6 separate regions of the Homo sapiens genome follow, and all the other regions are linked to region 2. The links come from fine-mapping of genetic effects on gene expression. A gene starts in region 2. Each other region holds a variant in brackets. All regions are shown on one strand. Distances are between the middles of the regions. Region 1 overlaps GNG7 (G protein subunit gamma 7). Region 2 holds the start of GNG7 (G protein subunit gamma 7). Region 3 overlaps GNG7 (G protein subunit gamma 7). Region 4 overlaps GNG7 (G protein subunit gamma 7). Region 5 overlaps GNG7 (G protein subunit gamma 7). Region 6 overlaps GNG7 (G protein subunit gamma 7).

What was found. PIP is the estimated chance that this variant, and not a neighbour inherited with it, causes the effect. A credible set is the group of variants that fine-mapping cannot tell apart.
Region 1: its variant is the best candidate, but not a certain one, in a credible set for the expression of GNG7 in whole blood (INTERVAL, PIP 0.54).
Region 3: its variant is the best candidate, but not a certain one, in a credible set for the expression of GNG7 in whole blood (INTERVAL, PIP 0.58).
Region 4: its variant is the best candidate, but not a certain one, in a credible set for the expression of GNG7 in esophagus mucosa (GTEx, PIP 0.51).
Region 5: its variant is the best candidate, but not a certain one, in a credible set for the expression of GNG7 in esophagus muscle (GTEx, PIP 0.50).
Region 6: its variant is the best candidate, but not a certain one, in a credible set for the expression of GNG7 in anterior cingulate cortex (GTEx, PIP 0.55).

The regions. Positions count from the first base shown.
Region 1 is chr19:2,642,492-2,647,562 of GRCh38, forward strand. GNG7 (G protein subunit gamma 7) reads right to left here. Exons shown (of 5, transcript NM_052847.3): 2 at 3,733-3,789. Among named protein-coding and RNA genes, the nearest start is that of MIR7850, 14 kb to the left of the region's middle. RefSeq lists an enhancer at 946-1,445. The variant C/CT (reference allele first, on the strand shown) is at 2,752.
Region 2 is chr19:2,700,445-2,705,515 of GRCh38, forward strand. It overlaps GNG7 (G protein subunit gamma 7), which reads right to left and starts at 2,250. Exons shown (of 5, transcript NM_052847.3): 1 at 2,202-2,250. RefSeq lists a silencer at 2,146-2,535.
Region 3 is chr19:2,661,063-2,666,133 of GRCh38, forward strand. All of the region lies in intron 1 of GNG7 (G protein subunit gamma 7), which reads right to left. Among named protein-coding and RNA genes, the nearest start is that of MIR7850, 33 kb to the left of the region's middle. The variant C/T (reference allele first, on the strand shown) is at 2,789.
Region 4 is chr19:2,669,626-2,674,696 of GRCh38, forward strand. The region is part of intron 1 of GNG7 (G protein subunit gamma 7); the gene reads right to left. Among named protein-coding and RNA genes, the nearest start is that of GNG7, 31 kb to the right of the region's middle. RefSeq lists a silencer at 697-897. The variant C/A (reference allele first, on the strand shown) is at 2,563.
Region 5 is chr19:2,675,989-2,681,059 of GRCh38, forward strand. The region is part of intron 1 of GNG7 (G protein subunit gamma 7); the gene reads right to left. Among named protein-coding and RNA genes, the nearest start is that of GNG7, 24 kb to the right of the region's middle. RefSeq lists a silencer at 2,094-2,242. The variant C/G (reference allele first, on the strand shown) is at 2,845.
Region 6 is chr19:2,520,697-2,525,767 of GRCh38, forward strand. GNG7 (G protein subunit gamma 7) reads right to left here. Exons shown (of 5, transcript NM_052847.3): 4 at 1-29. Among named protein-coding and RNA genes, the nearest start is that of GADD45B, 47 kb to the left of the region's middle. The variant A/G (reference allele first, on the strand shown) is at 2,928.

The DNA.
Region 1 (5,071 bases), 58 kb before region 2:
AGTAGCTGGGATTTCAGGTGTGCACCACCACGCCTGGCTAATTTCTGTATTTTTTGTAGAGATGGGGTTTCACCATGTTGCCTGGGCTGGTCTCAAACTCTCAGGCTCAAACGATCCTCCCCACTTCAGCCCCCCACTAGCAGGGACTACAGGTGCGTGCCACCATACCTGTCTAATTTTCTGTAGAGTTTAGGATATCGCTCTGTTGACCAGGCTGATCTCAAACTCCTGGGCTCAAGCCATCCTCCTGCCTTGGCCTCTCAAAGTGCTGGGATTACAGGCGTGAGCCATGGCGCCCGGCCAGAACTGAATGTTTGAAGAAGCCCAACACCAAACCTGTGGCAGCCCCAGGAAGCACCGGGAATGCATAGTCTGAGCCCTCTCCGGGCTCTGCACACCTTCCCGCCCTGCACCATGTGCACCGGAAATGCAGGAGACCTCTCCGGGCTCTGCACACCTTCTGGCCCTGCCGTCGGCACCCGAAATGCAAAGTCTGCGCCCTCTCCGGGCTCTACACACCTTCCCGCCCTGCACCATGTGCACCAGAAATGCAAAGTCTGAGCCCTCTCCGGGCTCTGCACACCTTTCCGCCTTGCGCCATTGGCACCGGAAATGCTAAGTCTGAGCCCTCTCCGGGCTCTGCACACCTTCCCACCCTGCACCATGTGCACCAGAAATGCAAAGTCGGAGACCTCTCCGGGCTCTGCACACCTTCCGGCCTTGCACTGTCCGCACTGGAAATGCAAAGTCTGAGCCTCTCCGGGCTCTGCACACCTTCCCGCCCTGCACCATGTGCACCGGAAATGCAAAGTCCGAGACCTCCCCGGACTCTGCACACCTTCCGGCCCGGCTCCGTCGGCACCGGAAATGCAAAGTCTGAGCCTCTCCGGGCTCTGCACACCTTCCGGCCCTGCACCATGTCCACTGGAAATGCAAAGTCCGAGACCTCTCCGGACTCTGCACACCTTCCGGCCCGGCTCCGTCGGCACCGGAAATGCAAAGTCTGAGCCTCTCCGGGCTCTGCACACCTTCCGGCCCTGCACCATGTCCACTGGAAATGCAAAGTCCGAGACCTCTCCGGACTCTGCACACCTTCCGGCCCGGCTCCGTCGGCACCGGAAATGCAAAGTCCGAGACCTCTCCGGGCTCTGCACACCTTCCAGCCCTGCGCCTCCTTTTTCGGGCTGAGCTTTTCTGTTGGTGTCACAGCTTCACTGGGGTGCAGTTACACACCCTGCGATGCACACTGGGCACGCTAATCTTCAAGCGCACATGGTTCTAAGGGTTGCCATTCATTTCTACAGCTATGCAACCATCAGCATAATCTCAATGGGACGCTGTCATCGACTCCCAGAGCTGCCCCGATCCCAACCCCCCAGCCTCCAGGCGACCTCTGATCTGTCACCTTTTCTAGAATTTTCCTGTAAGTGGAATTGTACAATATGAAGTCCTTTACATTTTTATGTTTGGCTTCATAAATAAATATTATACATATATTTTATATCTACACTTTTTGCATCTACACTTTATTTTATTTTATTATTTCTGAGATGGAGTCTCGCTCTGTCGCCCAGGCTGGAGTGCAGTGGCGCAATCTCAGCTCACTGCAACCTCCGTCTCCCGCGTTCAAGCAATCCTCCCACCTCAGCCCCCCAAGTAGCTGGGATTACAGGTGCCTAACACCACACCTGGCTAATTTTTGTATTTTTAGTAGAAACGGGGTTTCGCCATGTTGGCCAGGCTAGTCTCAAACTCCTGACCTCAGGTGATCCACCTGCCTTGGCCTCCCAAAGTGCTGGGATTACAGGTGTGAGCCACTGCACCCGGCCTACACTTTATATATATATATATATATATATATATATATATATATATATATATATATATATAATGCTCTATCTATACATGCATCATGTTATTGAGATGTAATTCATATGACATACAGTGCACCCATTTAAAATGCATAATTCTTTCTGAGTATTATCTGCGGCACCAAAAAGAAGAAAAAAATCATAAAATAAAAAGAAAACGCACAATTCAATGGCATTTAGTACATTCAGAGTCCTGCAACCATCACCACTAATTCCAGAACATTCTAATTATGCCAAGAAGAAGAAACCCATCAACCATCACTTCCCATGCCCCTCCCAGTCTCGGCACCCACGCATCCCCTCCCTGCCTCTGTGGATCGGCCCGTCCTGAACCTTTTGTAGAAAGGGGATCACATGCTGTGTGGCCTTTTGTGTCTGGCATCTCTTACTGAGCGTGACGTCCTCAAGGTACATCCACACTGTGGCCTGTGTCAAAGCTTCATTCCTTTTCATGGCTGAGTAACACTCCATGGTGTGGATGGAGGATGTTCTGCTGATCCATTCACCCATTGATGGACATTTGGAGTCTTTGCCTTATTGCTAAATTTGAACATATTCTTGACTTTTGAGTACATCTGTTTCTGAATTACCTCTCATGACCATTGACTACTAAGGATGAGACCAAAATGATTTATACTGGGCTTAGCTAAAATATGCATTTTTAAGGTACACATTACATGCCATAAAATTCAAGTGAAGTGTACTGCTCAAAGATACTTCAGGGCCGGGTGCAATGGTACGCACCTGTAATCCTGGCACTTTGGGAAGTCAAAGCAGGAAGATCACTTGAGCCACGGAGTTCAAGACCAGCCTGGGCAACAAAGCAAACCCTAACTCTTTTCTGTTTTTCTTTCTTTCTTTCTTTTCTCTCTCTCTCTCT[C/CT]TTTTTTTTTTTTTTAGAAGGAGTTTCGCTCTGTCACCCAGGCTGGAGCGCAGTGGCATGATCTTGGCTCACTGCAACCACCATCTCCCAGGCTCAAGTGATTCTCGCACCTCAGCCTCCCGAGTAGCTTGGACTCTAGGCACCTGCCACCACGCCTGGCTGATTTTCCTATTTTTAGTAGAGATGGGGTTTCACCATGTTGGTCAGGCTGGTCTGGAACTCCTGACCTCAGGTGATCCACCCATCTCGGCCTCCCAAAGTGCTGGGATTACAGGCATGAGCCACCATGCCTGGCCAAAACCCTAACTCTTAAAAAAAAATTTTGTTTTAAGATTTTTAAGTAAGTTCACCAGGTTGCGGTCACCCCGACCCGACCATCGGGTCCATTTCCACGTCCCTGGCAAGTCTCTGGTGCACATTCATGTCCCCAGCCTCCAATCACCACGAGTCCCTTTCTGTCCCTATGGCTTTGCCTTTTCTGGACATTTCTGCCTTCCTTTCTACTTATTTTTAAATGGTTTCCTCTTCCTACATTTTAAAAGCCACTCATGATTCTCTAGGGAGAAAAACGAGGAGTAAATCAACAGAGGAGAGCTAAAGGGCCAGCGACGGGTCACTCTCCAGGTGCACAGGAGATACGGGTGAAGGCTCCTTAAAACTCCCTACCATGGCACGAAGACACCGGAAAGGCATGCAGCACCGCTGTGGGCTTCCCACCCTGACCCCATCCAGGGGCTCCGGCACCAGCAGGACCAGTGAGTGCCACGTTCCCTGCCTCGTGGGCGGGAAACTCTGCCAGGAGCTAGCAGCTGTTACCCACACCTGCTCCCCATTACCCATACTTGGTGGATACAAACAGCCGACAGACCCAGGTCAAGGCCAAGACGCCCGCCTTGACGGCAACCCCACGTCTTACATCCAGGGTGCAAAACAGCCAACTGAACCTCAAATCATAACAAAGAAATGCATTACAGCACCGACCTGTGCAGGAGGTCTCGCCGTCTGCAGCACCGAGATCCCGAAACCAAGCTCCACTCCCTGGAAAAAACACATAGAGTTAGTTTGGCGTGGCTTGGCTGGAGGCACCATGCATGTGTTGATGGGGTCAGCATTGGAGAACGGCCTCGCGCTTGTGATTGGACAAGGACAGAAATCATTTTGGCAACCAGGCGCGGTGGCTTAGGCCTGTAATCCCAGCACTTTGGGAGGCCAAGGCAGGTGGATCATGAGGTCAGAAGTTCGAGACCAGCCTGGCCAACATGGCAAAATCCCGTCTCTACTAAAAATATAAAAATTAGCCAACGTGGTGGTGGGTGCCTGTAGTCCCAGCTACTTAGGAGGCTGAGGCAGGAGAATCCCTTGAACCCGGGAGGCAGAGGGTGCAGTGAGCTGAGATCGAGCCACTGTCCTCCAGCCTGGGCAACAGGGCAAGACTCTGCTTCAAAAAAAAAAATAATAGAAAAGGAAAAAAGCAGAAGACAATTCACTGAAAATATTTATTATTAGAGATTTATGACGTTATTCCTAATACATTTTCCACGTGTTTGAAAACTGAACTGAGTGCAAGGATTGATGTTTCTACGGCTCTTCACAGTTTATCAAAAACATCTCTGTACATCTTTGGAGCCTCACGATCTCCCTGGGAGGAAGAAGAAGGGGCTGAGTTAGTCCCACGGTGCCCAGAAGGCACCCAACGTATCCAGGTCTGCCCAGGACTTTTCCAGAGTTAGCCTGAAAGTCCTGCATCCTGGGAAGTCCCTCAGCCCCAGCTCAGCTGGTACGGGCAGTCTCTGAGCAGAACCAGGCTGGCACCACATGCCTGAGGCTGCGACCAGGAACTCCCCACCTCGGGGGACTCGGGGGGACCCTGCCACCATCACTGACAGGACAAGCTCCAGGGCCAAAGCTGTTCCTGCAAACACCGTGGTTTATATGAAATCCTTGCCTCCCTCTGGAGCCTGGAATCCTGGCATGGGTCAGGCAGCAGGGGCAGCAGAACCAGCCCCCATAGGAACGTGGGTGCTGGGTCTCTGGGAGCCTCGCTGGTGACAGTGCTTTGGGCTGTTGTCCCAGCTCGCTGCTGGGGATGTGGCGTGTCCCGCGTGACACATGGGGAGAGGGCCTGGAAGCTGGGCCTAGAAGCCGGGCCTGGCCTCCCCGACCCACCCCACGAGCCTTTCCCTTCCCAAACTCTGCTCTGTGCTCCATGTCCTCTTGCTGGGACAAACCACAGTCACAAGGAGGCCTCATGCGGAGTCCAGGGTCCTCCCAGCGAGTCGCCCCATCTCTACAAAATGACCCCATCTTGACAAAAAAAATT
Region 2 (5,071 bases):
GCAGGTTATTTTTTAAAGCTTCTGGGGGTGACCCTGATGTGTGCTCCTAAGGTTGCAGGACTAGAGTCAAGTTCCAGTCACTTCCTTTCCTCTCCTCTGTGACAACCCAGTCATCCCACTCCTCCATCTCCAAACCCACCAAAGAAAAAAACTGGATTGAGTCCATTATTCTCCATGCTTCAGGTACCCTCACTATATGCTAGGAAATAGTCCATGCATACATCCCGTAATTCGACCCTGAGAGGCACATGCTACTGTTTTTATTATTCCCGCTTTGCAGGGGAGTAAACAACACCTCCAAAAGATGATACAGCCAAATCCGCAGCGAGAGGCTGGGTCGGAACACACACAGGCGCACCTCCCAGAGGCCCCCGACACTCCATCAAGGCAAGATCGCAGCATCCCACGACGGGAACAAGTTTGTGAACTTGGCATTTGCCTCGCTGACACCTAGCAACCGTGTGAAGACGCTTAGCTGGGGATCCGCTGCCTCTGTTCATCAAGCCTGTCTTCCACCGCCCACCTCCCAACCCCTAGCAACCCCCGCTCCCCAGGAAAAATAAAGTGCCACCCACGTCGCTCAATAGCACCGTCCCAAAAACTCCCACTTTAGTTCCTGAAAAATTCAGTCACCGACAGGAGCCTTTCTCCTTCCTGAAGCGTTCTCCTTGGCACCCTATATCCTAGAAATAAACCTCAAAAAGTATTCCGAACTCCCGTCTCCTTCAACTCACTGTTCCCCAGGGGGTTCTGCCCCGTGCCCAGTTCTAGAGCAAACAATTAACATCTCCCCCAAAAGTAGAGGGGTGAGTCCTCTCCAAATTCCTTTTAACTGGATCCTACCTGAGACACCTCCCCACACCCCGTTTTCCTCCTGATTAGTCAATGTCTAGCAAAACACCTGCCCCCAGGTGTCTCCAGCCTGGGACCTTACCCCCACCTCCCTTCTCACTAACTCACCCCAACTTCCTTCTCCCTGAACCCCCTTCCACCCCACACACTCACAAGCTCCCCATTTCCCCTGATAGCCCCCAGACCCTTTCTGGAACAAGCCTGACCCCCACCTGTATGCTCCAGCCACTCCCTGGCTCACCCCAGCTTTGTCCTTCTGCCCCTTTTCAGCTAACCCTAACCCCTGGGCCGTCAATCACACCCCCCCATCTTCACCAACCCCATTCCTCAGTCCTCTCCCCAGACAACCTCAACATCTAATTCCCTCTGCAGCCCCCTCTCCAATGAACCCCACTTCAAACTCCATCCCCAGCCCCCTCTCCAGCTCCCTGCAAACCTCAACCCCACTCCCAGCTCCCTCTTCAAAGAAGCTGCACCCTTGACTCAACCCCTGTTCCCCGCTCCAATTAACCTCAACCCCCAACACCATCCCCAGCGTCCTCCCCAGCTAACTCAGATTTCCAATTCCACTTCCAGCCCCCTCCCCAGCTAACCTCGACCTACAATTCCAGCCCCCTCCCCAGCTAGCTTGGACCTCCAATCCCACTCCAAGCCCCCTCGGCAGCTAACCTCGACCTGCGACTCTAGCCCCCTCCCCAGCAAACTCAAGACCTCCAATTCCACCACCAGCCCCTTCCTAGCTAACCTGGACCTGCAATTCCAGACCCCTCCCCAGCCAACTCAGACCTCCAATCCCGCTCCAAGCTCCCTCCCCAGCTAACCTCGACCTGCAACTCCAGTCCCCTCCCCAGATAACTCAGACCTCCAGTCTCACCCCCAGCCCCCTCCTCAGCTAACTCAGACCTCCAATCCCACCTCCAGCCCCCTCCCCAGCTAACCTGGACCTGCAACTCCAGCCTCCTCCCCAGCTGGCCCTGATTTCTAAGTGGAGTCCCAATGCCCAGACCCAATCCTTCCCCAGCTAACCTCGATCTGCACCCCCTGCCCCGTCCCCAGCTAACCTCGACCTGCAACTCCCGCCCCCTCCCCAGCTAGCCCTGAGCCCCAAGTGCAGTCCCAATCCCCAACCCCAGCCCCTCCCCAGCTAACTTCGACCCCCTAAGCGCAGCCCCGTCCCCAATTCCAACCCCAGCCTCCAGTTGCAGCCCGGGTCCCCAGACCCAGCCCCCCTCCTCAGCCGACTCCGACCCCCAACTCGGTCCGCAGCCGAATCCGAGCTGTCCCAGTCCCCTCTCCGGGACGCCGGCCGCGCCCTCACTTCCCCTGGCCCGGTTCGCGGGCGCCCTTACCTGCGCTCGGGCCCCGCGGCCGCCTCAGCCCCGCCGCGCAGCCGAACCCTCCGCCCCGGCCCGCGAGCGCTCGCTCCCCTCTGCGGGGGCGGGGCCGACACTCGGGGGGCGGGCCCTGGCGTCCCGGCAAGGCCAATCGCGAGCCCCGGCTGCGGGAGGCCGGAGCGGGGGCGGGGCGCGGGGCAGGCAGCGGGGTAGGCTGCGCCCAGGAGAGTGGGGCGGGGCTCCGGGCGCGGGCGGGGCCGGGGGCGGGGCGAAGAGCGGCTTTCCAGGGTGACTTCGTGACGTCAGGAAGGCGCGAGTAGTTTCGCGAGTTCGAATCCCGCGCTAGGTGAGCTGGTTCGAATCCTGCATGCCAGCTCCGGGGGCTCATTTGCTGGGGAAGAATGTCAGTGATCATAACTGCTGCACCGCTTTCTTGAAGACTTTATAGGCTCCCTCTCGTGGGACCCTCCGCATAAGGCCAGAAGGCGAGATTACTATCCACATTTTACAGAGGTGGAAACTGGGTCTCAGAAAGGTGAAACCTAAGGTCATTTGCCCAAGCCTGTCTCATCATTTCCAAGATTTCTCAGTTTCCTAACTCATGGCCCTGGATCCACAAATTCCTGAGCCCCAACACAGATGGAATGAACCAGAATCCTATAGGGAACTGGACCCTGAAATCTGTGTTTTGTTTAGTTTTCGTTTTGTTTTTGAGACAGGGTATCACTCAATTGCCGTGGCTGGACTGCAGTGGTGCAGTCATAGCTCACTGCAGCTTTGAAGTCCCAGGCTCAAGCAGTCCTTCCACCTCAGCCTTCCGGGTAGCTGGGGCCACAGGCACGCACCACCACATCCAGCTAATTTTTGTATTATTAGTAGAGACAGGGTTTCACCGTTTTGGCCAGGCTGGTCTCCAACTCCTGACCTCAGGTGATCCACCTTTCTTGGCCTCCCATAGTGCTGGGATTACAGGCGTGAGCCACCGTGCCTGGCCCTGGCTAATTTTTTTTTGTTAGAGATGGGGTCTTGCTATGTTGCCCAAACTGGTCTTGAACTCCTGGGCTCAAGTGATTCTCCTGCCTCTGCCTCCCAAAATGCTTGGATTACAGGCCTGGAATCTTCATTTTCCACAAGCTCCCTTGGGAATATTGGAAAACACTTTGTATGTCTCCAAAAGCAGTACACAGCCCTGGAAGGAAGATGGAGCCACCATATTCTGTGACCTCAGGGATTTCATCAGGCGCTGACACTGTGTGTCCTTGCCGCCCCACCTGAGCCCTGGGATTGGAGCTGCTGGCCAAAATCCAAGATAAACTTCCCCAGGGTTCCTGTCATCCCTGCAAGAACCTCCCTGCTCATCCTCTGGACTCCAGTGGCCTGCCCTGCAGGGCACAGAGAAACCTCCATCTCCCTGCTTGCCCTCCTCCAGGCTCTCCCCAGCTGGCATCCCCCAAGAGGAATGACTGTCTAGATAGAGCTTGGGAAGGGCACGGTGGCTCACGACTGTATTCCCAGCACTTTGGGAGGCTGAAGCGGGAGGATCGCTTGAGCCCAGGAGTTCAAGACCAGCCTGGCAACATACTGAGACCGCAACTCTACAAAAAAATTAAAATATTAGCCAGGCCTGGCGGCGCACACCAGTAGTCCCAGCTACTTCGGAGGCGAAAGCAGGAGGATCGCTTGAGCTTAGGAGGTTGAGGCTGCAGTGAGCTTTGATCACACCACTGCACTCCAGCCTGGGCGATAGAGTGAGACTCTGTCTCAAAAAAAAAAAAAAAAAGTGTTAAATACACAATGCAATATGATTCGGCCATAACAAAGAATAAAACCCTGTCATTTGCAGCAAAATGGATGGGACTGGAGGTCATTATATTAAGTGAAAAAGTGAAATAAGCCAGACACAGGAAGACAAATAGGGCATGTTGTCACTGATACGTGGGAACCAGAGAGTTGATCTCATGGAGGTAGAGAGTAGAATGATCAATACCAGAGGCTGGAAAGTTGTGTAGGTTGAGTGGGGGGGAAATGAAAAGAGGTGAGTTATGAGTACAAACATTCAGTTAGACAGAAGGAATACATTCTAATGTTTGATAGCAGAATAGGATGTATTCTGCTATCAAATATAGTATTAGAATAAATTCTAATGTTTGATAGCAGAATAGGGTGACTGTAGTTAGCAACAATGTATTGTACATTTCAAAATAGTTAGAATAATGGTGGCTTACGCCTCTAATCCAAACACTTTGGGAAGCCAAGGTAGGAGAATCCCTTGAGGGCAGGAGTTCGAGACCAGCTTGGGCAACATAGCGAGGCTTCATCTCTATTTAATTATTATTATTATTATTATTTTCTTTTTTGTGTGTGTGAGATGGAATTTCGCTCTTGTTGCCCAGGCTGGCATGCAATGACGTGACGTCAGCTCACCACAACCTCCGCCTCCCGGGTTCAAGCGATTCTCCTGCCTCAGCCTCCTGAGTAGCTGGGACTACAGGAACGTCCCACCACGCCAAGCTTATTTTTTAGTACAGACGGGGTTTCACCGTGTTAGCCAGAATGGGCTCGATCTCCGGACCTCGTGATCTGCCCATCTCGGCCTCCCAAAGTGCTGGGATTACAGGCGCCCACCCGGACACAGTGGCTCACGCCTGTAATCCCAGCACTTTGGGAGGCCAAGGCGGGTGGATCACCTGAGGTCAGGAGTTTGAGACCAGCCTGACCAACATGGAGAAACCCCGTCTCTACTGAAAATACAAAATTAGCCGGGTGTGGTGGCACATGCCTGTAATCCCAGCTACTCGGGAGGCTGAGGCAGGAGAATGGCTTGAACCCAGGAGGCAGAGGTTGTGGTGAGCCGAGGTCGTGCCATTGCACTCCAGCCTGGGCAA
Region 3 (5,071 bases), 39 kb before region 2:
TAGCCGGGCGTGGTGGTGCATGCCTGTAATCCCAGCTACTAGAGAGGCTGAGACAGGAGAATTACTTGAACCTGGGAGGCGGAGGTTGCAGTGAGCCAAGATCGTGCCACTGCACTCCAGCCTGGGCAACAAGAGCAAAACTCTGTCTCAAAAAAAAAAAAAAGAAAAGGAAAGAAAGAAAGAAAAGAAAGAAAGAAAGAAAGAAAGAAAAGAAAGAAAGAAAGAAAGAAAGAAAGAAAGAGAAAGAAAGAAAGAAAGAAAGAAAGAAAGAAAGAAAGAAAGAAAGAAAGAAAGAAAGAAATGGGCCCTCCAGGCTGGGCACAGTGGCTCATGCCTATAATCCCAGCACTCTGGGAGGCCAAGGTTGGGGCAGGTCATTTGAGATCAGGAATTTGAGACCAGCCTGGCCAACACAGTGAAACCCTATCTCTACTAAAAAAAAATATAAAAATTAGCCAGTAATTGGCTAATTACTGTAATTATGCCTGTAATCTCAGCTACTCGGGAGGCTGAGGCAGAAGAATTGCATGAATCCAAGAGGCAGAGGTTGCAGTGAGCCAAGATTGTGCCACTGCACTCTAGCCTGGCTGACAAAGTGAGACTCCATTAAAAAAAAAAAAAAAAAAAAAGGAAGGAAGGAAGGAAAAAAGGAAAGAAGGAAGGAACGACTCATTTGGGCATTTTGCCCTCCTGTCAAGGCCAGTTGGAAGCTGAGGCCTCCACCAACAGCCACATGAGGGCGCCCTCTTGAAAGCAGCTCCTCCAGCTCCAATCGAGCCTTCAGATGATACAGCCCCAGCACATTCACTGCCAGAATCACCCAGTGGAGCTGCTTCCTAACTCCTGAGTGAGGGTGGAAAAAACTCAAACTCAAATTGCTTTTCCTCTTGCTCTCACATCAACAGCAATCAACATGGCCAGGTGCAGTGGCTCACGCCTGTAATCCCAGCACTTTCAGAGGCCAAGGCAGGTGGATCACTTAAGATCAGGAGTTTGAGACCAGCGTGACCAACACGGTGAAACCCTGTCTCTACCAAAAATACAAAAATTAGCCAGGCGTGGTTGTGGGCACCTGTAATCTCAGCTACTCAGGAGGCTGAGGCAGGAGAATCACTTGAACCTGGGGGGCGGAGGCTGCAGTGAGCAGAGATTGCACCATTGCACTCCAGTCTGGGCGACAGAGCGAGACTCCATCTCAAAAAAAAAAAAAAAAAAAAATCAACCCAAGATATTTCTGTGACCAAATGTGAGAGGAGTTTCCCCACACACCAGCTAGCTGTCCCCTAATTCGATTCAGTTCAATTCAATTCAGGTGCTATCTACCTGGAGACAGCCTTGGACCCCACAGGTTGAGGGCTAAATCCCCCCACAAGACTGCCCCTAACCTCTTCAGATACCAGTAGCAAGTTTGGGCCTCCAGAACTTCCAACTGACCAGCTTGAAGTTAGGGTTGGGTTTAATTTACTACAGCAGCTCTCGGAATTCAGGGAAACACATTTACTGGTTTAATATAAAGCATATTACAAAGAATACAGACGAAAAGATGCATAGGATGAGGTATAGGGAAGAAGGGCAAAGCTTCCTTGGCATGCTACCCTTCAGGAACCTCCATGTGCTCAGCTATCTCAAAGTTCTCCAAACCCCGTCCTTTTGAAGTTTTATGGAGGCTTTACTTCATAGGCATGACTGATCGCGTCACTGGCCACTGGTCATCACCTCAACCTTCAGCCCTTCTCCCCTCCCCAGAGGCTGGAGGGTACAGCTAAAGGTTCCAGCCCTCTCATCCTGCCTTGATCTTTCTGGTGGCCAGACCATTCCTGAAAATAACTAGAAGCTGTCAGCCATCAGTCGACTTATCATCATACAAAAAGACATGACTTTGCAGATTCCAAGGATTTTAGGAGTTCTGCACCAGAAAAAAATCAGGACAAAGACCAAATAATATAATAAATATAATGCAAGTAATATAATATCCCACTGACCCACAGAAACTGCAGGATAGTAAATGCTTGCTGTTTAAGCTAAGTGTTGGGGTAATTTGTTACACAGTGATAGATAACTGGTACATCTGCAAAGGGAAGGAAGGGCTGATCCACATGACTCCTCCAAGCAGATGTTGCTATAGTTTGAATGTGTCTCCCAAAAAGCATATTGTAGAAACTTTAATTCCCAATGCCACCATGTTGAGAGGTGAGAACTTTAAGAGGTGATTAGGTTATGAAGGCCCTACCCTCATTAATGCCATCTCTCTTTCTCTCTCCCTCTCACCCTTTCTCTCTCTCTCCCCCCCCTCCTCTTTCTTCCCCAGTTCCCCAATCTTTCATATATGTGCTCTTTTGCCCTTCCACCTCTGACGCAGCAAGAAGGCCCTCACCAGATGCCAGCACCTCGACATTGGACTTCCCAGTCCCTAGAACCGTTAAGAAACAAATCTCTATTATTTATAAATTATCCAGTCTATGGCATTCCATTATAGCAGCACAAAATAAAGACAGGTGTGTAGTCAAACATTACCTTTTCCTAAAAGCCAGCAATTGGATTTTTCATTTTCTTGTTTTTCCAATATCTATCAACCTGATAATTGGGAGAGATGCAAAAGCCCAGATGGATAAGGTACATTCACTGAGGGCAAATCAGAAGAATGACCAGGCCAAGAAAATGATTCATTTTGGCATTTTGCAAATTATCAAGATATGCATGCCAGCACCAGTTTTTAAAACTGAACAAATCCACTGGCTTTTATCTATTTCCTACTAAAGCAACGTGGCTTGATCTTGACACTATTAAA[C/T]TGGGGCTTGATTATTCTCTGGGGTGGGGCCGTTCTGGGCACTGCACAGTGCTGAGTAGCATCCCTGGTCTCCACCTACTCCAGGCCAGGAGCACCCCCAAGTCACGGTACCCACAAATGTCCCCAGACATTACCAGTGTCCCCCAGGGGGCAGGCTTGCCCCCAGTTGAGACCCAATGCTCTAAGGCATGTCCCTCAAGGGCAGGACAGCCAGGGACCTGACATTTGATGACAGGCCTATCCTCCACCGCCCCCCAGGCCCGGCTGCACTTCCTCCTCTGGGAACTGAGTGGGCAGGACGGGCTGTCAGAGCCCCCTTCCCTTCCCACGCTGACATTCTGCCAGCACGTGGCAGGGGCGTCTTGTCTCGTTGGAGGCTGGATATAGAAACACAGCCCTGTCCTTTGTGCCATCGCTGAAGTTGTCAACCTCAGCCTTCACTCATCACCACAGCAACCATCTAAATATGTCACCAGCAAAGTGCTGATTGCAAAGGAAGGGGGCAGAGAGGCCTGGACGGGCTCTCACCCAGGTGCAGGCGCAGGGGAGGTGCCGGGACTGGGGGAGTGACGTGGCTGCTTCAGAGCCACGAGACTGATGACGGCCAGGCCGGGCGTGACCTGGAACAGGCTCCACTGCACCCTGGGGCACACAGAACAAAGGGGCAGGCCTGCTTGACCCTGAGGGTTCAAGGTCTCTGTGAGCCGAGGTCAAGGAGGGGGAAGGAACAATCAGACGGTTGGCTCTGTGTCCTGCACCCTCAGTGCTCTAGAGACCCTCCTCACCCAGTCCTCTAGGTCACTCTGGGAGGATGGCCCCGGCTGACACCGTCTGCCCCATCGGGAATCTATTCTGGTGTCTACTGTGAGCAGGGAGCAAACTCATTTTTTTGCCAGTTAATGCAAGGTCTCTCCCCTGGAAACCGTGGACATTCAGAGCTGGGTCATTCTCTAGGGTGCAGCTGTCCCGGACACTGCAGGGTGCTGAGCAGTGTCCCTGGCCTCCACCCACTCCACGCCACGACCATCCTCAAGTTGTGACAACGACAAATGTCCTCAGACAACACCCAGTGTCCCCTGGGGCAGAATCACCCTCAGTTGACACCCCCTGAATTAGGAAATTCCACGGACCCCCAAGATACTCTGTCCCCTGATCTTCTGTCCTGCTGAGGTCCCAGGAGGCTGCACACATTGAAATCCACACCTTTAGTTGGGGGGAGGGAGAGAGGAGGTGAATCCCACGAGCTGGGGTCCCCTGGTTTACACCGTCTGCCCCATCAGGAGTGTGTCCTGGTGAGCAGGAAGCAGACTCCATTTCTTCTCCAAATAATGAATGCTGAGTCTCTCCTCCCAGGCACGGTGGACACTGGGGCTGTACCATTCTCTGGGATGGAGCCGTCCTGAGCACTGCAGCACGCTGAGCGGCATCCGTGACCTCCAGCCACTGCATGCCCGGAGCACTTCTCAATGGTGACAGCCACAAATGTCCCCAGACATGGCCCAGTGTCCCCTGGGGGGGGGGGGGCAGGATCACCCTGCCGTGCTGGACAGTCCTCGCCACACCCCACCTCTTGGAACTGGAATGTCTGGTGAGACGGGCAACAAGGATTTGGGAAGAGGGCCATGCGGGACAAAAAAAAGAAAGAAAATGAGAACGAACGGATTTCTATTTCCCCTCAATGTGAAAATAGCTCCACTGAGTCCCGAGGAAGGATTGGGTGGGGACGTACGCTCTGGTATGGCCAAGGTGGAGTGCTGGACAAGAGCTACTCCATTCTGACTTCACGACTCGCTGTCTGGCTGGGTGACCTTCAGTCCCTTGCCACTGTCGCTGTGCCTCAGTTTCCCACTCTGTAGAATGCACATCGAAGCAGCATCCACCCTGTGAGACTGGTTTTGGAGATTACATAAATGAGTATCTATAAAATGTTTAAAGTGGTGTCTGAGCCATGGGTCATGGCACATACTGGCTTTATTATTTAGAACCTGGATTACCTCCTTTTATTATTCTTTTTCAATTTATTTTACTTATTTTTTGAGATGGAGTCTTGCTCTGTCATCCAGGCTAGAGTGCAGTGGTGCGAACTTGGCTCACTGCCTCTGCCTCCCGGGTTCAAGTGATTCTCCTGCCTCAGTCCCCCATATAGCCAGTATTAGAGGCGCCCGCCACCACGCCCAGCTAATTTTTGTATTTTTAGTAGAGACAGGGTTTCACCATGTTGGTCAGGCTGGTCTCGAACTCCTGACCTCAGGTGATCTGCCTGCTTCAGCCTCCCAAAGTGCC
Region 4 (5,071 bases), 31 kb before region 2:
TCCAACATCAACAGCAGAGTTGAGTGCCTGCAACGGAGAGCGCCTGGCTCAGAGCGTCGAAAATATTTACTCTCTGGCTCTTTACAGAAGAGGTCTGTTGATGGCTGGGTGCAGCGGCTCATGCCTGTTATCCCAGCACTTTGGGAGGCTGAGGCGGGAGGATCACTTGAGGCCAGGAGTTTAAGACCAGCCTGGCCAACACGGTGAAACCCCGTCTCTACTAAAAATACAAAAATTAGCCAGGCGTGGTGGCGGGTACCTATAATCCCAGCTACTCGGGAGGCTGAGGCATGAGAATCACTTGAACTCGGGAGGTAGAGGTTGCAGTGAGCTGAGATCGCGCCAATGCACTCCAGACTGGGTGACAGAGCGAGACTCTGTCTCAAAAAAAAAAAAAAAAGAAAGAAAAAGAAAAGGTGTGTGGACACCTCACAAGACAGAGCCCCAGAGCCCTACATCATTACTTCAAGGCCTCTGACTGTTTTCTTTTGAAACTCTCTGTCTCTCTCTCTCTCTGAGTGCTCCGTTAATATTTTGTTGGAGGAACAAAAACAGCAGGGTCAGCCTCCTCAGGGGGTGAAATAAGCTCTGTCTGGTGCAGCCTGGTTCTGGCCACGGAGACCCACCCTCCCCTCAGCCTGGCTCCAGAGGAAGGAGCACCAGTGGGGATAGACCCACCCCACTGTCGGGGGAGCAGAGACTGGCAGCAGGCCTGCCTCTGAGGCCCCCGCGGGAGCCGTGCTGTCACCTCGACCCCGCTGTCACGGGGGACAGAGCTGAGGCCTGCGCTCCCAGCGCCGGTGTCTGCAGGCACACAGGTCACCCTGACTCCACAAAGTCAGCCCTGCAGCCTCCAGACGGTCAGACTTGCTGAGCTAGGACGGCCACTGCGTCCCATGTGGCTTGTTTTCCCAGACCCTGAGCTGCCTCGGGCATGGCTGTGTGACGGGTGTGGAGATTCACAGAGCACCCTATTCTCTGAGGGTCACTTTGGTCCAGGGTCTCCTCCCCTAGGCACTGCTGAGGCACTGGGGCTGGAGTGTTCTCTCGGGCGGGGCTGTGCTGGGCACTGCAGGGTACTGAGCAGCATCCCTGGCCTGCACCCACTCCATGCCAGGAGCCCTCGCCCCGCCCCCCACAAGTTGTGACAACCACAATGTCCCAGACTTTACCAGGTGTCCCCTGGGGGACAGAATCATCCACCATTGACACCCCCTGGGTTACAGATTCCAAGGACCACCCCTCCCACAAAGAGACGGCGTCCCATGATCCTCTGCCCTGCTGAGGTCCCAGGAGGCTGCACATATTGATATCCCCACCCTGAGTGGGGAGGGAGAGAGGGGGTGAATCCCAGGAGCTGGGGGTCCCCCTGATTTTGGGAGTTTATTCTGGTGTCTGGTGTGAGCAGGGAGCAGACTCGATATTTTTCCAAATAATTAAAGCAGGGTCTCTCCCCCTTGGAATTCAAGGATGGATCGTTCTCTGTGGTCACCCTGGGCACGGCAGGGTGCTGAGCAGCATCCTTGGCCTCCACCCAGTCCATGCCAGGAGCTGCCCCTCTCTTAACTGTGACGACCACAAATCAGTACCCAACTATGTTTAAAACTCTCCAGCTGATCTCAGACAACCCACCTTCCACCAACTCCCAGCAGCTCAGGAGCCTTTCTGATGACCACCCTGGCAGTTGCAGGAAGGCCGAGGACCACCCCGGATCCCCCTGGACACCGGTGGCTCTGAGCCTCGACCTGGCCAGCACCAGCCAAAAGGACCAACCCTCCAAGTGCTGACGAACGAGGTGAATGAGGCTCAAGGTGACGTTGTCCGGCCTGCCTTCTGCCTCACACGCTTCCCCCAGCTTCAGCCGCCTCCCCGAGACCCGAGAGCTGGGGAGGAGCCAGGCAGGGGAACGTTCGTCCTGGCTGAGCTCCGAGGCCATGTCCAGGGGTCATGAATTTGAGGTCAGCCCTGAGGCGGGAAGGTGACGGGTAGCATGCGGAGCCCCAGAGAGACAACACCTGGCCCATTCAAAGGGCATCAGGCACCGCTCCTGCCCCAGTGGGTGTGAAGCCCAATGTCATCAGCTCCTCCAACTACTCTGAGAAGCTGGGAGATGTTCTATTGTAAAATCTCCTGATTTTTAGTTTCATTTTATTTTATTTTATTTTTTTTTAAGATGGAGTCTCTGGGAGGCCGAGGCGGGTGGATCACGAGGTCAGCAGATCGAGACCATCCTGGCTAACACAGTGAAACCTCGTCTCTACTAAAAATACAAAAAATTAGCCGGGCGTGGCAGTGGGCACCTGTAGTCCCAGCTACTCGGGAGGCTGAGGCAGGAGAATGGCATGAACCCGGGAGGTGGAGCTTGCAGTGAGCCGAGATTGCGTCACTGCCCTCCAGCCTGGGTGACAGAGTGAGACTCCGTCTCAAAAAAAAAAAAAAAAAAAGATGGAGTCTCGCTCTCTCACCCAGTGGCGCAGTCTCAGCTCACTGCAACTGCTGCCTGCCAGGTTCAAGCAATTCTCCTGCCTCAGCCTCCCGAGTAGCTGGGACCACAGGCACCTG[C/A]CACCATACCCAGCTAATTGTATTTTCAGTAGAGACAGGGTTTTGCCATGTGGGCCAGGCTAACCTCAAGTCATCCTCCTGCCTCAGCCTCCCAAAGCACTGGGATTGCAGGCGTGAGCCACTGCACCTGGCCTATTTTTAAATATTTTGTAGAGATGGGGTCTCACTGTGTTGCCCAGGGTGGTCTAGAACTCCCAGCCTCAAGCAATCCTCCTGCTTCAGCCTCCCAAAGTGTTGGAATTACAGGTGTGACGCCCGATTTTTTTTTTTTTCTTTTGAGACAGAGTCTCACTCTGTCATCCAGGCTGGAGTGCAGTGGTGCGATCTCAGCTCGCTGCAAACCCTGCCTCCCATGTTGAAGCAATTCTCCTGCCTCAGCCTCCTGAGTAGCTGGGATTACAAGTGTGTGTCACCACACCGGCTAATTTTTGTATTTTTAGTAGAGATAGGGTTTCACCATGTTGGCCAGCTTGGTCTCAAACTCCTGGCCTCAAGTGATTTGCCCGCCTCGACCTCCCAAAGTGCTGGGATTACAGGTGTGAGCCACCGCGCCTGGTCTGTGACCCCTGATTTTTAAATGCTGGCAATAATTCAAAGTTTAAAGCCACTGGGTTCTACCTTGGCCAGGTGACCAATGTCAACACCACCAGTGTGGACGTCACGTGCCCCTGATGTGTTCTCCCCAGAGCCCTGAACCCCAGACTATTCAAGAGCAAACATCATGGAAACTCACGTTGGGGGACATTTTACAAAACTCCTGACGAGTCCTCCTCAAAACCACTAGGTTGGCCGGGTGCGGTGGTTCATGCCTGTAATCCCAGCACTTTGGGAGGCCGAGGCGGGCAGATCACAAGGTCAGGAGATCGAGACCATCCTGGCTAACACGGTGAAACCCCGTCTCTACTAAACAATACAAAAAATTAGCTGGGCGTGGCAGCGGGCGCCTGTAGTCCCAGCTACTCAGGAGGGTGAGCCAGGAGAATGGCCGTGAACCCGGGAGGCGGAGCTTGCAGCGAGCTGAGATAGCACCACTGCACTCCAGCCTGGGTGACAGAGCGAGATTCCATCTCAAAAAAAAAACAAAACAAAACAAAACAAAACAAAAAAAAACCCAGCAGGTCATCAAAACCAATGAGTCTGAGAAGTGTCCCAGCAGAGTGTAAGGAGATGTCGGGAGTCAATGGCATGTGGGTTCCTGGAAAAAACAAGAAAATGGAAATAAAGACCGGGCGCCGTGGCTCACGCCTGTAATCCCAGCACTTTGGGAGGCCGAGGCGGGCGGCTCACCTGAGGTCAGGAATTCGAGACCAGCCTGGCCAACATGGTGAACCCCTGCCTCTATTAAAAATACAAAAATTAGCCGTGCAGGGTGGCAGGCACCTGAAATCCCAGCTACTTGGGAGGCTGAGGCAGGAGGATCATTTGAACCCAGGAGGTGGAGGTTGCAGTGAGCCAAGATCACACCACTGGCACTCCAGCCTGGGTGAAAGAGCGAGACTCCATCTAAAAAAAAAAAAAAAGAAAGAAAGAAAGAAAGAAAAATAAAATGTAAATAAAGTGTGGAGTTGAGTTCGTGATAATGTATGGATACTGGTCTTTTTAGAAAATTTCTTTCTTTCTTTTTTTAGAGAGAGGGCCTTGTACTGCTTTTGTATATTTTAAACATACAATTGTGTATATTTCCAATATATTTCAGAGTTTTCTTAGGATACATTTGTGATAATTTGTTACACAGAATTAGCTAACTAATATAGGCTGTTTCCAAAATTCAAAACTACCCTAAAAGAAATCTGAGGCCAGGGACCGTGGCTCACGCCTGTAATCCCAGCACTTTGGGAGGCCAAGGTGGGCGGATCACCCAAGGTCAGGAGTTTGAGACCAGCCTGGCCAACGTGGTGAAACCCCATCTCCACTAAAAATATAAAAACTAGCCAGGTGTAGTGGCACCTTGCCTATAATCCCAGCTACTCCAGAGGCTGAGGCAAAAGAATTGCCTGAACCTGGGAGCCAGAGGTTGCGGTGAGCCGAGATCACCCCACTGCACTCTAGCCTGAGCAACAGAGTGAGACTCCATCTCAAAAACAAAACAAACAAGAAAAAAGAATCTGAAATATAATGGAAATACACACAATTGTATGTTTGAAATATACAAAAGCAGTACAATCCACTCTTGAAGGGAATCAGAATCGTCACACTGCTGGGAAAAGGGCAAGGTCTCCAAAGGTGACTGGTGTTTTTGTTTTTTGTTTTTGTTTTGTTTTTTTTTGAGACAGAGTCTTGTTCCGTTGCCTAGGCTGGAGTGCAGTGGTGCAATCTCAGCTCGCTGCAACCTCCACCTCCTGGGCTCAAGCGATCCTCCTGCCTCAACCTCCCAAGTAGCTGGGATTACAGGCGCCCACAACCATGCCCGGCTAATTTTTGCATTTTTAGTAGAGACGAGTTTTTACCATGTTGGCCAGGCTGGTCTCGAACTCCTGACCTCAGGTGATCCACCCGCCTTGGCCTCCCA
Region 5 (5,071 bases), 24 kb before region 2:
AAATCCAATAACTGATGTCCTTATAAGACGAGGGAAATTTGGACACAGACCCACACAGGGAAGGGGGCCGTGTGAGGATGGAGGCAGAGACTGGAGCGATGTCACCAGCCCAGGGGCGCCAAGAACCGCCGGCCACTTGCCAGATGCTGGAAGAGGCAGGAAGGATCCTCCCCGGGAGCTTCTGGGCCGGGAACGGCCCTGCCCACACCTTCGTCTCAGACTTCTGGCTTCTAGAACTGCCAGAAAATCCATTTCTGTGGTTTTGAGCCATGCAGGTTGAAGTCATTTTCCATGGGCGCCCTCAAATATCCAAACTTCACCCCACAGAGACCCTCCCCTAGGCACCCACATCCTGGCATGTTCAGACACCCTCCTCGTGAACATGCACAGCCCCCAAGGCACCAGATAGACATTGATTTCCATCTAGAAGTGTCCGTCAAACCCTCAGCGATATATCTCTGCCGCCCAGGCTAGAGTGCAGTGGCACAGTCTCAGCTCACTGCAACCTCCACCGCCTGGCTCAAGCGATCCTCCCACCTCAGCCTCCCAAGGAACTGGGACCACAGGCGCGCACCATCATGCTTGCCTAATTTTTGTTTTCGCTTTCTGTAGAGATGGGGTTTCACCATGTTGCCCAAGCTGGTGTCAAACTCCCAGATTCAAGTGATCCTCCCGCCTCGGCCTCCCATAGTCCTGGGATTACAGGTGTGAGGCATCGCGCCCAGCCTCTTTGGTGGTTTTCAGGAACAGCTAGTTAGTTATTCTGCAGATGGAGGTTCAGGAGCTTGCACCACTTCCTAGACCCGGCTGGAGGAGTTGGGTGTAATTTTCAGCCGGGCGGGTGCAAGACTCAAAGAGATGTGTGGCAGAGAGAAGCTGTTCAGACAGCTTCTGGGGTTGCCAGGAAGAAACAAGCCACTTGCTCCGATCTGCACATTCCCTCCCTGTCCAGGGCTGATTTCCACCCAGGCAGGACTCCCGATTCCCAGAGAATCTCAAAGCAAGGCATTCTCCTGGCCGTGATCCGGCTCTCAGCTCTAAAGGGACTCCATATCTTTACTGCAGACCCAAATCTGTGTCACCACAGAGGAAAAACGGCCGCTTAATTACACTTGCATATATGCTCGCAAGAATTCTTCCAGGGAGCAGGATCTGGGAACGTCCTCTGGAGACAGGGCCTTCCAGGAGACGCTGAGCTCGGTGTTGGAGCATGGAGGCTGAATCTAATCCATCAACAGGATGCCACAGGGGAGCAGAGAATTCCATTTTTTTTTTTTTGCTTCAATTCCTTTCTATACAACCGTGGTTCTCAACCAGGGGTCCTTCTGGTCCCCAGGGGATGCTAGGTGGTGTCTGGGGGCATTTGTGACTGTTATGACTCAGGGATGCTCCTGGCGTGGAGTGGGTGGAGGCCAGGGATGCTGATCAGAACCTTGCAGTGGCCAGGACAACCCCACCCCAGAGAACGACCCAGCCCTGAATGCCAAGGGGGAGAGACTCTGCCTTAATTATTTGGAAAAATATTGTATCTGCTCCCTGTTGACACCAGACACTAGAAAAAATTCCCGATGGGGTGGATGGCAGAAACCAAGGGGGGCCCCAGCTCCTGCGATTCTCCTCCTCTCTCCCTCCCCACTCAGGGTGTGGATTACAATGTGTGCAGCCTCCTGGAACCTCAGGAGGACAGAGGATCATGAGACACAGAGTTTCTTGGGGATCTGTGGAATCCCCTAACCCCCGGGGGTCTCACCTGGGGGTGATTCTGCCCCCCATGGGGCACTGGGCAATGTCTGGGGACATCTTTGGTTGTCACAACTCGGGGTGTCCCTGGCATAGAGTGGGTGGAGGCCAGGGACGCTGCTCAGCACCCTACAGTGCCCAGGATGGCCCCACCTCAGAGAACGATCTGGCCCCAAGGTCCACAGTGACAGAGAGTGATAACCGCTGCCATAATCTATAGGACTGACCATAGCCACATGCATATGGTCACACAAACATGAGTGTGACTGTCCCTCTGACTCAAAGGACAAAGCCAGTCCCAACCTTTCTAACCCTGCCACCTGTGCTGACCACCAGTGGCCTCTGTGTGGATGTTAGTTAGGGTTCAGCAGCCTTAGGAAAACAGAACACCAGGCATCCAGACCTTCCACTGTGGCCCTGAGTGGAAGAGGAGGTGGCGGTGGCCGACGCCAACACTGTCACAGCAAGAAACAAGAGAGTGGGTGTGACTGTGGTCACTTCCATCTCAGGGCACATGCTACATTGAGGAAGTAAAACCTGGGGGGAGCGAGATATACAAGAAGTGAAAGGTGACTTGTAGAATGTTCTGGAATCTTCCAGAAGCTTCTGGAAACTTCCAGAATTTTCTGAAATATAGTAGGTATTGTGGCATAGCAAGGCTTTGGATTCAGAAGCTGCTGGGCTTGGGCACGGAGTCAAAAAAGTAACAGAGGAAAAGCCACGGAATGCAAACTTCCAGGGATGACATGGTTGCCACACAGTGGGCAGGTGGGTCACACCCACTGTACACAGGTCACACTTGGCTCTTTGAACTCAGTCACCTATTATGGGTGGAGGAACCAAATCCTGGGATGGGGTAATAAATGCATACGGTTTCAGTTTCCCCATCCACAACACAGGGAGAAGAATCAGATAAGGTGTCCAGTCTCGGAGGGTCCTGGGCAGCAGGCAGCGCCTCCAAGATCATCACCTCCAACCCTGATTCTGCCAAGCCCCAGCCTGGTAACTACTTCTCTCAAGGGGTCCCAGCTCTCAGAGCTAGGAGTGGCCTTCAACGCCAGGTCTACACCCCATGCCAACAGAATCCCTTCCCTGACCTTTGCA[C/G]CAGCCAACCCATCCTCCGTCATGCAGCCTTCGACGATCGGAAACCAACAGCTTCTCATGACGGTCCCTCCGATTTCCAGACAAGCCTGATTCTTAAGCCAGCCCAGCCAAGCTACAGCTCCTATCCCATCTCCCCAAGAACAGACTTCATCGTTTTCTGAATTTGGTCCACGCCCATGGTGTCCGTGAGGAAAAATAACAACATAAGTAACATATAGTACAATGCTAATTTTTTGAGACGGGATCTTGCTGTTGCCCAGGCTGGAATGCAGTGGTGCAATCATAGCTCACTGCAGCCTCAACTTCCTAGGCTTCCAAGCAATCCTCCTGCCTCAGCCTCCCAAGCAGCTGGGACCACAGGTGTGCACCACCATATCTGGCTAATTTTTAATAAATTTTGTAGAGATAGAGTCTCACTATGTTGCTCAGGCTGGTCTCGAACTCCAGGGCTCAAGCAATCCTCCCACCTAAGCCTCCCAAAGTGCTGGAATTACAGGTGTGAGCCACCACACCCAGCCAATACTAATATTTATACATAATATATTGAATAATATTAGCAGTGATTCCAGCAATAACAGTGATAACCAGGACCACCACCCATCCAGGTCACAGCCTCGTAGTCCATCCCAATCTTTTCAATGACCCTAGGGAGTGATTCCTATCCTGTCTGACACACAAGGAAACAGAAAGGTTCCATGTTTTCTTCAAAATTCACACAGAAAGAAAGTCACATGGTGGCTAAGTAGGCATTCTAAATCCAATGCCTCACCATGCCTACATTCCAGAAAACTCTAGAAGGCTCTGGGAGTTTCTAGAAGGTTCCAGAAGATTCCAGAACCCTCCATGATTCGCCACCTTTCACTTTTTACATATCCTATTCCCCCAGGTCCCACTTCCTCAAAGCAGGACAGAATTTTCAACCCCTTGCATTCCCATCTGCATCTTCACCTTACTCATTGTATTAACTCCAGGCACCAGGTAGCACCTTCCTAAATTACCTGGGCTTGGCAAGACCTAAATCAAAGACATGACCTGCTCAGTAGTCCCAGATGTGAAGAAACTCAAAATCCAATGCCAGAATCCCTTAAAACAGAACCAGTCAGTGTCCACAGCTCTATTAGGCTTGACCCACAGTGGAGAAAGATGAGAAACCCACAGGGAGAAAAACAGGACCGTCTTCTTACAGTCTAAGACTGTCAGCCAGGCACGGCAGCTCACGCCTGTAACCCCAGCATCTTGGGAGACCGAGGAGGGAGGATCGCTTAAGCCCAGGAGTTCGAGCAGCCTGGGCATCATAGTAAGACCTTGTCTCTTTTTTTTTTTTTTTTTTTTTGAGACAGAGTCTCGCTCTGTTGCCCAGGCTGGAGTGCAGTTGTGCGATCTCGGCTCACCACAACCTCCACCTCCCAGGTTCAAGTGATTCTCTCTGCCTTAGCCTCCCCGAGTAACTGGGATAACAGGCACCCGCCACCATGCCTGGCCAATTTTAGTATTTTTAGTAGAGATGTGGTTTCACCATCTTGGCCAGGCTGGTCTCAAACTCCTGACCTCAGGTGATCCACCCGCCTCGGTCTCCCAAAGTGCTGGGATTACAGGCATGAGCCACCTTGCCCAGCCACCTGTCTCTATTTTTTAAAAAATTAAAACATTTTAAAATTAAAAATTAAAAGCTCTGAAAAGTGACCACATAGACTAACAGTGGGTTTTTTAGTAAAATACACTTAACACAAAATTTACAATTTTTTTTTTTTTTTTTTTTTGAGATGGAGTTTCCCTCTTGTTGCCCAGGCTGGAATGCAATGGTGAGATCTCAGCCCACTGCAACCTCCGCCTCCTGGGTTCAAGAGATTCTCCTGCCTCAGCCTCCTAAGTAGCTAGGATTACAGGCATGCATCACCACGCCTGGCTAATTTTGTATTTTAGTAGAGGCGGGGTTTCTCCATGTTGGTCAGGCTGGTCTTGAACTCCCGACTTCATTCGTTTCTTTTTTGAGACAGGGTCTTGCTCTGTTGCTCAGGCTGGAGTGCGGTGGTGTGATCACAGCTCACTGCAACCTTCGTCTCCCGAGCTCGCATGAGGGTCCCCATGTCCTACCTCCCCGTGAGCCCTTGTGATTGTTTGTTGTTCTGGTTTTTTAATTCTAGCCATCTTACTGGGCGTGAAGTGGTATCTCACCATGGCTCTGATTTGCATTTCCCTGAGGACTGACGCGGAGCATGTTTTGAAG
Region 6 (5,071 bases), 180 kb before region 2:
ATCAGCTCTGGGCCCCGTTGTTCAGAGAGCTGTGGGGGAAGCAGAGGGGTGTGGGTCAAAGTTCAGGTCAGGCCTCTGGGTGGCAGCAGGGGCGCCCGGCCTTGGCTCAACCTTCCCGACTCTAGGCACGGCCACTTTGCCTCTGGGTGGGGACCAGGGGCCTCCGTGTACAAAGAGCTGGCACTCGTTTAACTCTCAGCATAGAGCCTGGCACGCGGTCAGCCGTCACAATCCTCTGTGGGAGTTTGCAGAACGAGAGAATGAAAGGGCGAAGGCAGGCTGGGCGTGGTGGCTCACGCCTGTAATCCCAGCACTTTGGGAGGCTGAGGCAGGTGGATCATGAGGTCAGGAGATCGAGACCATCCTGGCTAACACGGTGAAACCTCATCGTTACTAAAAAAAAAAAAAAAAATACAAAAATTAGCCAGGCATGGTGGTGGGTGCCTATAGTCCCAGCTACTCTGGAGGCTGAGGCAGGAGAATGACGTGAACCCGGGAGGTGGAGCTTGCAGTGAGCCGAGATGGTGCCCCTGCACTCCAGCCTGGACGACAGAGCAAGACTCCGTCTCAAAAAAAAAAATAAAGAAAAAATAAAGAAAGGGCAAAGGCAATAGGCCAGGCCCTCTGGAGAAGGGAGGACCCACGCAGGCTCCCGGGTGGCCTGCCTCAGTCCATGGCAGGGGTTCTTGCCCTCCAGGGGACACTGGGTGATATCTGGGGACATCTGTGGCTGTGGGGGGTGCTCCTGGCATGGAGTGGGTTGGGTGGAGGCCAGGGACATTGCTCAGCTCCCTGCAGTGCCCCGGACGGCCCCACGCCAGGGAAGGATCCGAACGCGATATCCATAGTACCCAGGGGAGACCCTGGGTCAGGGCAGGGATCACAGCAGAACCCCTGGTGACTGTCCCCCTCCGTGTTTTTTTTTTTTTTTTTTTGAGACAGAGTCTTGCTCTGTTGCCCAGGCTGGAGTGCAGTGGTGTGATCTCGGCTCACTGCAACCTCTGCCTCCCGGGTTCAAGCGATTCTCCTGCCTCAGCCTCCCGAGTAGCTGGGATTACAGGCACGTGCCACCACACCCGGCTAATTTTTGTATTTTTAGTACAGACAGCGTTTCACCATGTTGGCCAGGCTGGTCTTGAACTCCTGACCTCAGGTGATCCACCCTCCTCGGCCTCTCAAAGTGCTGGGATGACAGGTGTGAGCCCGGCCTCTCCTCCGTGTCCTTCATATTGAACCAGTCAGGAGCCCATGCTGTTGCTTCTTGAATTCTCCTGGAAAAACCCAGGACCTCAACAGGGCAGACGATCACAGGACGCAGAGTCTCTTGGGAGTCCGTGGAATCCCCAGATCTCATCTGGGGATGACTCTGCCCTCCATGGAGCACTGGGTGATGTCTGGGACATTTGTGGCTGTCATGACTTGGGGGTGCTCCTGGCAGGGAGTGGGTGGAGGCCACGGATGCTGCTCAGCACCCTGCAGTGCCCAGGACGGCCCCGCTCCAGGGAACGATCCAGCCCCACGTGTCAGTAGTGTCCAGCCTAGAGAAACCTGCTTCGTAGGACCCAGTGAGGGGGTTGGTGCTGATGGGGGTGGCAGGGGCAGGGGCCAGGTTCAAGAGTCCTGGGCAGCCGCAGTCCCAGCCGGGCGTCTGTGAGCAGTTAATTAAGCCGCACCCTGTCTCTGTCATAACTCATGGCATCGCTGTCTGTTTTGCAGAGCCAGGCAGCCGCAGAGAAGTCAAGGCAGATTCCAGAGTTCTCAAAAAATGCCTACTTAGTGATAAGAAGGAAAGGACTGGCCGGGCGCGGTGGCTCACGCCTGTAATCCCAGCACTTTGGGAGGCCGAGGCGGGCGGGTCACAAGGTCAGGAGATCAAGACCATCCTGGCTAACACGGTGAAACCCCGTCTCCCGGGCGTGGTGGCGGGTGCCTGTAGTCCCAGCTACTCGGGAGGCTGAGGCAGGAGAATGGGGTGAACCCGGAAGGCGGAGCTTGCAGTGAGCAGAGATCACGCCACTGCACTCCAGCCTGGGGGACAGAGTGAGACTCTGTCTCAAAAAAAAAAAAAAAAAAAAAAAAAAAAGAAGGAAAGGACCATCCATGCATACCACACCGCAGGGGAATCTCCAGGGCCTGGGATGTGTAGCATGCTTCTGTTTGTGTAATGTGTTTAAGAGGACTTTTTTTAGACAGAGTCTCGCTCTGTTGCCCAGGCTGGAGTGCAGTGGCATGATCTCAGCTCACTGCAAGCTCCGCTTCTCCAGCTCCAGCGATACTCTCACTTCTGCCTCCTGAGTAGCTGGGATTACAGGTGCATGTGCCACCATGCCTGGCTAATCTTTGTATTTTTGGTAGAGACATGGTTTTACCATGTTGGCCAGGCTGGTCTCAAACTCCTGGCCTCAAGTGATCTGCCTGTCTCGACCTCCCAAAGTGCTGGGATTACAGGCATGAGCCACCATGCCCGGCCCAAGGACGAAATTTTAGAAATGGAGAACAGATTAGCGGCTGCCAGGGATCAGGGAGGGGCAGGGGCTGGGAGGGAGATAGGTCTCTGTATAAAAGGGCAACACAGCCAGGCATGGTGGCTCTTGCCTGTAATACCAGCACTTTGGGAGGCTGAGATGCGAGGATCACTTGAGTCCAGGAGTTTGAGGCCAGCCTAGGCAACATAGCAAGACCCCCTCTCTACAAAAAATTAGAAAATTAGCTGGGCATGGGTAGCGCACTCCTGTGGTCCCAGCTACTTGGGAGGCTGAGGTGGGAGGATCACTTGAGCCTGGGAGGTTGAGGCCAGACTGGGCAATTTAGTGAGACCCCATCTCTGAATAAATAATAAAAGGGCAACACGAATGATCCCTGTTAGTGCCTCAACTACGGTGATGAATCCACAAGCCTACATGAGTGATAAACTCACAGAGAGCCTC[A/G]CACACTCACACACCAGCGGGCACAATACTGAATACTGTGGAACCTGAGTGAGGCTGGTGGGTGTGTGACTGTCTGGCTGCGATCCTGCCCATAGCTTTACCAAATGTTACCACCAGGGACGGCCGGGGAATGACACACAGAATTCCTCTACATTCTTTGTTAGCACTGGCTGTGACTCCACGGCGATCTCAATAAAAGGGGCAATTAAACAAAAAATCCCTTTGACACCGCCCAGCCTCCTTGGTTTCCAGCAGACGTCCCACCCCCACTTTTTGGGGGCAGAGAAGGCCCAATCTGTCTGCTCTGGAGGCAGAGCCCACGTGTGGCCGCTCAGAGGGCTCTGATTCCAGAGAGCTTCAAAGCAGCCACAAAACATCCAACTCAGGGAAAACCGCCCTTGGTTGGGCTTAAAAATACCTAAATTACTCAGTGCTAAAAATACGTGCACGCAGAGAACAAACGGGCTGGCCGCACCTCCTGTTTTCCTTGGAAGGCCAGGGGGTCCTATTTAGCATCCACAGTCAGGAGTGTCCACCCAGACCCTGGGCCCCTGCTGCCCTGGGCAGCCACCGCCCGCAATTTCCATGTGAGCATCAGGTCCTGAGCCGTGCTGGCTTTTCTGTTTTGGGCGAAATTCCCTGCGAGATGCTGCCTTTGGGCTGGGTAATAACCCAGGCCTGCCAGGAAGGCCAGAGAGGACTGCGCTGTGTGTGTGTGTCTATGTTTATTTGCATGTATGTCAATGATGCACATGTGACTGTACACGTGTGTACACGTGGTGTGCATGTCAGTGTGCACATGTGTATGTGTGTGCACATGTGCATGTATGTGTACCTTGCGTGTGCATGTATGTGTGTATGTGTATACTGGCATTCATGAGTGTGCATATATGCGTGTGTGCACACATATCTGCATGTGTATGTGTACCTGCATATGCATGGGTGTGCACGTCAGCATGCATATGAGTGTGCATCCTTGCATGTGTGTACATGTGCATGTGTCTATATGAGTGCATGTACACATCTACGTGTGTGCGTCTGCATATGAGTGTGTGCATAGGTGCATTTGCATACGTGCATGTGTGTGGACATGCATGCCAGTGTGCACGTGTGTATGTGCACGTGTGTGGACACGGCACTGCATGTGCGTGTGCGCACACGTGTGTGGGCATGCATGTCACTATGGGTGTGTGCATGCGTGTTGGCGTGTGTGTACGTCACTGTAGGTGCGTGGATATGTGCGTGCGTGGGTGTGTACATGTGTCTGCATGTGTACATGCGTGTGCGTGTGTGTGCGCACGGGAGTGCATGTGGATGCTTGGGCTGAGATGCCGAGACTCAGACACAGATTGCATCACCCATGCAGTCGCCTCCCTAAGTCCCCGTCTCGGTGGTGTCACCAGCCGGCACTGACTCAGGAGCAGCCATGCCCCCAGCAGAGGACTAAGCCAACAGCAGCAGAACTGGCCACGCACTGAGTCAGCCAGGAACGCCCCTCCCAACTGCCTCCCTGCAGAGGCGCACGGGTGCCGGGCACCCCGACCTGAATGAGCTTGCCTCGGGGCCCGTGGCCCGGGGAAGCTGTGGGAGGGGCGGGAGCAGGCAGCTCCGGGGGCAGGGCCAGGTGGTCAAAGGTGCACACAGTCCCCACGGCTCCCTCCTGACGGTCGGGCTCTGCCTCGGTGCACAGGCTCCTGCAGGCAGGCAAGGCTCCAGGCCAGGCTCTCCAAAAATAAAACTGAAGAGGGACGCCGCCCGGCCCCGCGCTGGCCTCCTAGCAAAAGGCTCATAGCCACACCCGAGTCTAAGCCCGCCTCGTGCAGAAAAATCCCACTCGCGCCTGAAAGTCAAGAAGGATGAGGGTACCCCCCCACTCCAGGACATAGTGGAAATCTGTGGTCGCTCAGGGAAGGGTGACCAGCCCCGAAACAGAGCAGACCTGAGCTGATCAGACACGAGGCTCCAGTGCACAGAAGGGCTGAACAAAACCGCAGGACAGGAGCTGGCAGCACCGGCAGGGAGGGAGGTGGGACCACAGGGACCCCCAGGGAGCAGCCGCCCTCTAACCCCTTGCTCCGGCAGTTATCCCGAGGGCAAAAAATGAAAAGAAATAAAAATCTACATATAGAAAGGCGTTTATAATT